Linked DNA regions of Homo sapiens. The protein of the gene in region 1 purifies or fractionates together with the protein of each later gene. This does not show direct contact. Each region holds a gene or a part of one and is shown on either strand. Other genes may lie near its edges. The genes, in order: TAS2R8 and FAM234A.

The links.
Region 2: the proteins of TAS2R8 (region 1) and FAM234A purify together in Homo sapiens (affinity purification with mass spectrometry; one large-scale study listed by BioGRID and IntAct). This does not show direct contact.

The regions. Positions count from the first base shown.
Region 1 is NC_000012.12:10,805,288-10,808,840, reverse strand, and holds TAS2R8 (taste receptor type 2 member 8), read left to right. Parts: upstream 1-1,554; 5' UTR 1,555-1,860; coding exon 1,861-2,790; downstream 2,791-3,553. UniProt on the Homo sapiens protein: Receptor that may play a role in the perception of bitterness and is gustducin-linked. May play a role in sensing the chemical composition of the gastrointestinal content.
Region 2 is NC_000016.10:262,204-266,020, forward strand, and holds part of FAM234A (protein FAM234A), read left to right. Parts: coding exon 1-22; intron 23-220; coding exon 221-350; intron 351-1,058; coding exon 1,059-1,199; intron 1,200-1,496; coding exon 1,497-1,572; intron 1,573-1,812; coding exon 1,813-1,968; intron 1,969-2,410; coding exon 2,411-2,513; intron 2,514-2,607; coding exon 2,608-2,819; 3' UTR 2,820-3,817.

The DNA.
Region 1 (3,553 bases):
TTCTGACAAATACTGGCAAAGGCCTTGAACTCAATGAGTAGAAGAATGTCAGGCAAACAGGCTTTGGGGAAAAGATTTTAGAACTCATCAACCCTTGCTATAAAATCAATCATGCAAAACAACTCTCTACTTTGAAATGAAGGCCGGTCCTTATCTTCACCGCCCTTTCCTCTCCATTTCTGGAAGGGTTTGTCTTGATCAAGAAGGGAGAAAAACAATCTTTAATGAGATTCTATCTAAGATGATATATGATGTGGGAAAAGGAGTATAATCTCAAGAATGAAAGTTTGACAGAGAGAGGAGGCACAGTTATGTATAGCAGAACCACCTTGAGAAAGAAGGTTGAGGGTCCCAGTAGTCAGCGTGTTCATGAGTACTCTAGCTGGTGATGGCAATTTTAGAAGTCATTTCCCAAAGATTCCCTGGAATGTTCTCTCTAGCCTTCTAACTCAGAAATCTCTGACATATTTTTTTCCCTCTGCATCATTTTCTTTTCTATTTTGTTTCCAGCAGTAGTTTATAGATAACTAGGTTTCTTTAAGTTATTAAGTTTATGCTTTCCTGTTACACATTACACACATGTAAGAAATAGAAAAAATCCTGCATGTGTTGTATACATTGTAGAACTATTTAAATACAAGAAGCCCTAGGGTATTGTGATTTGTATTACCTACATTCAAATGTATTTTGGGCTAAGTTGTACTTTCCCTTACCCCAAAACAAATAAATCTAATTTAATAGTAGAATTAGTCCTATTCCTTGGAAATACTGGTATGTAAAAAAAAAAAATTATTATTATTATTTTGAGACAGAGTCTCACTGTATCGCCCAGGTTGGAGTGCAGTGGCACGATCTTGGCTCACTGCAACCTCTGCCTCCCGGTTCAAATGATCCCCCTGCCTCAGTCTCCCAAGTAGTTACTTTTTTATGTGTTTGCCCTATCTAGAAATATGACTATAATATGCACTGTGAGATTACAAATCTTATAAAAGGAGTTGATTGGAACTAGAATAATGTAAAATTTAAATTTTCTTAATTTTAGATTACAATGCTTATTATACAAGAGACAGTGATTCAGGAAATGAATTGTCTTCAAGGGTATTTGTCACATTAAAAAAAAACTAAAGATAACAAATCTTTACCTGGCATATTTCACTTCTGAGGAACAATTGAAAAGAAAGCAAATTCTTAGTAAATATTATCATGTGCCTGCCTAAAAAAAAGTCATTTCTAATTAGATTTGTATTATATCCTTCCCTAATTAGCCGTTTAAATGAAGACAAGAATTATTATCCTCTGACTAAATGTTAAATATCTACAATCTAATTGTACTAATTACTTCCAAAGTGAAAATTTCTTTGCATCTGGGAGAACTGATTTGTGGCTTATTTATAACTTACATGATGAAAATGAAGTTTTATTTACACAGTTGGGTTTTTATTAAACATTTATCTCTTTTTTTATGACTCCCTATTCAAAACTCAATTTGAAGATCCAAATATAGAGCTACAGCAAGAAGCCTGTTGCAAATTCATGATATAAAATCTCTTTGAATTTGCATGGGAGCAATTTCAGCCAAACATTTCAGGTATCACTCACTAAAGGATAATAATTATAATTTTTCCAGGCTATAAATAACTAGTCAAGCTGCTCATTAGTTGGTTTCATCTTCAGGAGTGTAGAGACAATCCTATTTCAGAGGAGAGCTGAACACTTCCGGAAGAATAACAACGTCGAAATAACAGCAGATGAAAACATTATTGCATGATTCGAAGAATTGATCTATCATGCTTTAACAGGTCACCTGTAAATTAGCTCATCTACAGTGATATTTGAAATCAGATTGTTCTCTCTACAAACATGTTCAGTCCTGCAGATAACATCTTTATAATCCTAATAACTGGAGAATTCATACTAGGAATATTGGGGAATGGATACATTGCACTAGTCAACTGGATTGACTGGATTAAGAAGAAAAAGATTTCCACAGTTGACTACATCCTTACCAATTTAGTTATCGCCAGAATTTGTTTGATCAGTGTAATGGTTGTAAATGGCATTGTAATAGTACTGAACCCAGATGTTTATACAAAAAATAAACAACAGATAGTCATTTTTACCTTCTGGACATTTGCCAACTACTTAAATATGTGGATTACCACCTGCCTTAATGTCTTCTATTTTCTGAAGATAGCCAGTTCCTCTCATCCACTTTTTCTCTGGCTGAAGTGGAAAATTGATATGGTGGTGCACTGGATCCTGCTGGGATGCTTTGCCATTTCCTTGTTGGTCAGCCTTATAGCAGCAATAGTACTGAGTTGTGATTATAGGTTTCATGCAATTGCCAAACATAAAAGAAACATTACTGAAATGTTCCATGTGAGTAAAATACCATACTTTGAACCCTTGACTCTCTTTAACCTGTTTGCAATTGTCCCATTTATTGTGTCACTGATATCATTTTTCCTTTTAGTAAGATCTTTATGGAGACATACCAAGCAAATAAAACTCTATGCTACCGGCAGTAGAGACCCCAGCACAGAAGTTCATGTGAGAGCCATTAAAACTATGACTTCATTTATCTTCTTTTTTTTCCTATACTATATTTCTTCTATTTTGATGACCTTTAGCTATCTTATGACAAAATACAAGTTAGCTGTGGAGTTTGGAGAGATTGCAGCAATTCTCTACCCCTTGGGTCACTCACTTATTTTAATTGTTTTAAATAATAAACTGAGGCAGACATTTGTCAGAATGCTGACATGTAGAAAAATTGCCTGCATGATATGAAATCTTAGCTGTATAAATGGAATTTAAAACCAAATCTTCTCTAACAAAAAATATAGTTTTCTTAATAGTCTATTCTCATTTTTCCCCAGTTATCTCATTTATTTTGGATGCATATCTTTAAATATTATTAGGACCTAGTAGCAAACTACTGAATACATCTTTTCTATCCCTTTACAACTCAGAAATGCTCATCTTTACACTCCCTTTCCTCGAAGAATTTCAGAGCTCATGCTTCTCTTCTTGTCTCCTCAACGCAAGTGTTAGGCCTGTATTGCCTAGTTAAAGTCTTTTTAGATTTTACTTTGGCTCATGGTAAAGTGGACCTGAGCTACAGTAACTGGTTTCTCATTTTTCTTTGTCATACATTTTTATTGCCGCTCCTTAATTGTGCTCCTTTCATGGCTCTGCTGAGTCACCCCCATTTGGCTTATTGATTAGGAACTCAGATGTTCTCTGGTCTGTCTTTGGTTTTCCCGAATGATGATTTCCATGGTCTCCTAGGTAATATTTTCTGGTTGACCTTATTCTGATGATTTCTATTGATTTTCCTTGGAATTAAATTTCCTCTCAAACAACTTGCTTTTCATGCAGCACCTAGGTGGGAATCGAACCCATTCAAGTGCCACCCACCAAGGGGTGTTCCTAAGCCCTCTTCACAATCTGGATAAAAGAATGGGGATAACAAATATTAGTCAGACTGCTCAATCAGGTTCTTTTCTCTAACCAGACCCTGCAAAGGTTTTCACTCAGGACTTAACAAAAG
Region 2 (3,817 bases), on another chromosome or scaffold:
CACTACATCCTCTTTCCCTGCGGTACGTTGTTTCTGCCACATCCCTGGCCAGCCTCACTCGTGGAGCATGACTGCCCTGCGGCTCCTCAGGTCCTGCTTCTGCTCTCGAGGTGCTGGAGTCAGGAAGCCCAGGGGCCTGGCTCCATGTGGCACTGCGTGCCCCTGGTCCGGGTTCACAGCGTGACCCTGGTGACCTCGGGCCCTTCTGTGTTTTGAATAGCAAGCTCCCTCTGCGGCTGCTCTGTGAAGGGTCTCTACGAGAAGGTGACCGGGAGCGGCGGCCCGTTCAAGAGTGACCCGCACTGGGAGAGCATGCTCAATGCCACCACCCGCAGGATGCTTTCCCACAGGTGGGTCCGGGCCGCAGCCTTTCTCCATGCAGAGCGCCCACCCCATGGCTCTGCTCGCCTGCCTCAGCGTTCGGACAATCTGTGTGGAGCCCAGAGCAGCCCCACCGGCAGGGAGGTGCTCGGGGTACCGCAAGGTCACCCTGGGCTCAGATGTGAGAAATGGTCAAATAAAAGTTGAGTAAAGAGAAGAAAGGTTCCCGACGCTGTGCCTGTCTGTCTCCACGGAAAGTGGGGGTCTTTCTTCTCTTTTCTGTTTTTTTTTTTTTTGGTTGTTTTTTTTTTTTAAGACGGAGTCTTGCCCTGTCCCCCAGGCTGGAGTGCAGTGGTGCGATCTCGGTTCACTGCAACCTCCGCCTCCCGGGTTCAAGTGATTCTCCTGCCCCAGCCTCCCGAGTAGCTGGGATTACAGGCGCGCACCTCCACGCCCAGCTAATTTTTGCATTTTTAGTAGAGACGGGGTTTCTCCATGTTGGTCAGACTGGTCTCGAACTTCTGACCTCGTGATCCGCCCGCCTCGGCCTCCCAAAGTGCTGGAATTACAGGCATGAGCCACCGCGCCCAGCTCTTCTCTTTTCAAGCTGTAGAACTGAGAAACGGGTTATGGGGGCCTAAGAGGAGCACCCTGAGACGGGCGGTGCCAGAGCCTCCACTGGGTGCCTGAGGCCGCCCCGGGGACCCGGCGCCCCTTTCTCCCACTCTCCTGTCTAGCTCTGGAGCAGTGCGCTACCTGATGCATGTCCCAGGGAACGCCGGTGCAGATGTGCTTCTTGTGGGCTCAGAGGCCTTCGTGCTGCTGGACGGGCAGGAGCTGACGCCTCGCTGGACACCCAAGGCAGCCCATGTCCTGAGGTACAGGGTTTCCCCAAGGACCGCGCAGGTGCTGCACCCCTTCCCGGCATCCCGGGCACATCCCGTTGGCTGGCGAGGAGACAGCGCTGGGGGTGGGGCCGGAGGCCGTGTGCTGCTGCCCGGGCTTCTTGCCTGTCTCTGGTACTTGCCCCTTGCCCCAGACGTCGGCTCCGTGTCCTGGGCCCTGGTCCAGATGTGGCCATGGGAGACTGAGGGGCGGACGTGTTCCTGGGTGCTTCCTTCATCTCAGTCTCCTCACTGAGACCCCTCGTGAGCGCTTCCTCCATATTGTTCCAGAAAACCCATCTTCGGCCGCTACAAACCAGACACCTTGGCTGTAGCCGTTGAAAACGGAACTGGCACCGACAGACAGGTTCGTTGTTCTTCCTTCGGAGGTGGCACCTTTGTTCTTAGCTGAGGATAGACTGGTCTGAAAGCAGACGGGGCTGCGGCCCAGGAGGCTGCTGCCGTCAGAGCTGCTGAGAAGGTTCTGCCTCCCTCAGAGCATCTGCCTCCAGGGCTGGCATGGCTGAGGGCACGTGTGCCTGTGCAAGCCTCGAGCTTTTCCCGGTAGCCCCCACGTTGGCCCCCACAGTGTCCCCTCCCTCCCCAGATCCTGTTTCTGGACCTTGGCACTGGAGCCGTCCTGTGTAGCCTAGCCCTCCCGAGCCTCCCTGGGGGTCCACTGTCCGCCAGCCTGCCGACCGCAGACCACCGCTCAGCCTTCTTCTTCTGGGGCCTCCACGAGCTGGGGAGCACCAGCGAGACGGTACGGGAGCCACCCTCGGAGCAGCCATGCTGGGAGCCGGGGCCAGAGACCCAGGCTGGAGCTCCACCGTGGAGTGCCCAGAAGCTCATCGGTGCCTGGGCAACCTCACATAAGTTGAAGTCCAGTGACAGTCAGGATGAGGTGGTGCAAGCTGAGGCAAAGTGACCTTAGAGGGGTCCAGCGAGAAGGGGCTGATGGCCTTCGGTGGATAGGGGCGCACACAGCCATGCCCTGAAGGGAGTGGCTGCCGGCAAGGACCAGTGTCAGGACCAGGTGGGGTGGGAGGACCTGGGAGGTGGCCACAGAACTGGGGGCTGGCATTTGGGGGACCCAGATAGGGCCCCTAGCAGACATAGAGCTCCAGGCACGGTCACTCTGACAGCAGTGTCCTGTGGGAGTGCTCAGTGAAGGGCGTGGGGCCCATTGCTGGTTCTCGCTCCAGGAGACCGGGGAGGCCCGGCACAGCCTGTACATGTTCCACCCCACCCTGCCGCGCGTGCTGCTGGAGCTGGCCAATGTCTCTACCCACATTGTCGCCTTTGACGGTGAGTGTGGCCTCGGCCAGGGACCCGGGTGTTCCGCGGGGTCTGCCCTGGCTGGTCCTGAGCCGCCCTGACAGCTGTGTCCCCCACCCTGCAGCCGTCCTGTTTGAGCCAAGCCGCCACGCCGCCTACATCCTTCTGACAGGCCCGGCAGACTCAGAGGCACCCGGCCTGGTCTCTGTGATCAAGCACAAGGTGCGGGACCTTGTCCCAAGCAGCAGGGTGGTCCGCCTGGGTGAGGGTGGGCCAGACAGTGACCAAGCCATCAGGGACCGGTTCTCCCGGCTGCGGTACCAGAGTGAGGCGTAGAGGCACGCCAGCCAGAGCCTGTGGAGAGACTCCGCCTGCTGACACTAAACGTCCTGGGAAGTGGGCCCTTCCCTGGGTCTCTGCACTGACTCCCCCACTCCTGACCCTGGTGATGGTCGCCACTGGGCAGCAGCAGCCTTACCAGTCCTCCATGATCACACCCAGGGACCTGCATGGGTGAGGGGACACCCTGGGCCTCTCTCCCGCCCAGCATCCTCCCTGAGTCCCCACACAGGGCCTCACTCTGCACCCCACCAGGGTCCCGCTCACACCAGGCAGCCTTCATAGTGGTCTCCCTGGCCACCTTGGGCAGAGCTGGGTCATGCAGCACCCCATCCTTACCCGGTGCCCTCTCCTTGCCAGCTTCTCCCCAGGCCAGAGCGGCCATCGCGTAGAAAGAACCAGGGTGTCCCCGGGACAGGCCGTCCCCCACCCCATCCTGTAGAAGTCCATTCCCCTTTTCCCTCCTGTGCTCTGTCCCCCAAGGAGTCATGGAACTCAGGGTACTGGGCCTCAACGGGAACCTGAGACAGCTCCAGCTTCGCAGCCCTTCCCGGAGCTACAGGGGGATCCTCTAGCATGGGGGGTGTGACTTGGTTCCTTTGACCAGGTCCTGTGAGGAAGCCTGGAGCAAGGGTCTCCCCCAGCAGGATGGGTGGGGCCTGCTCTGGAGCTGAGCCCGTGGCCGCTCACAGGTGTCCTTAGTGGTGTTGCAGCTGTCTACTGGCTGCATGTGCTGTGAATATCCCAAGGAACTGGCTGTGGAATGCGTGTTTGGGTCAGTCTGTGCCCTCTCAGTAGACACTGGAGCTGCTCTGTCCCTGAAGAGGCCCCGTGCCCCAGGCATGGCAAGCGCCTGCCTCTCCCCTTCCGGTGCTCACACGCCCACGCCGTGCCACCCGATGCAGGACTCACCTCTGTGCCTTGCTGCTCCTGAGGCCCAAGGGCAGCCATGGTGCTCTGTACTGCTCGGGCCGCCCAGGTCACAGAGCCTGAGC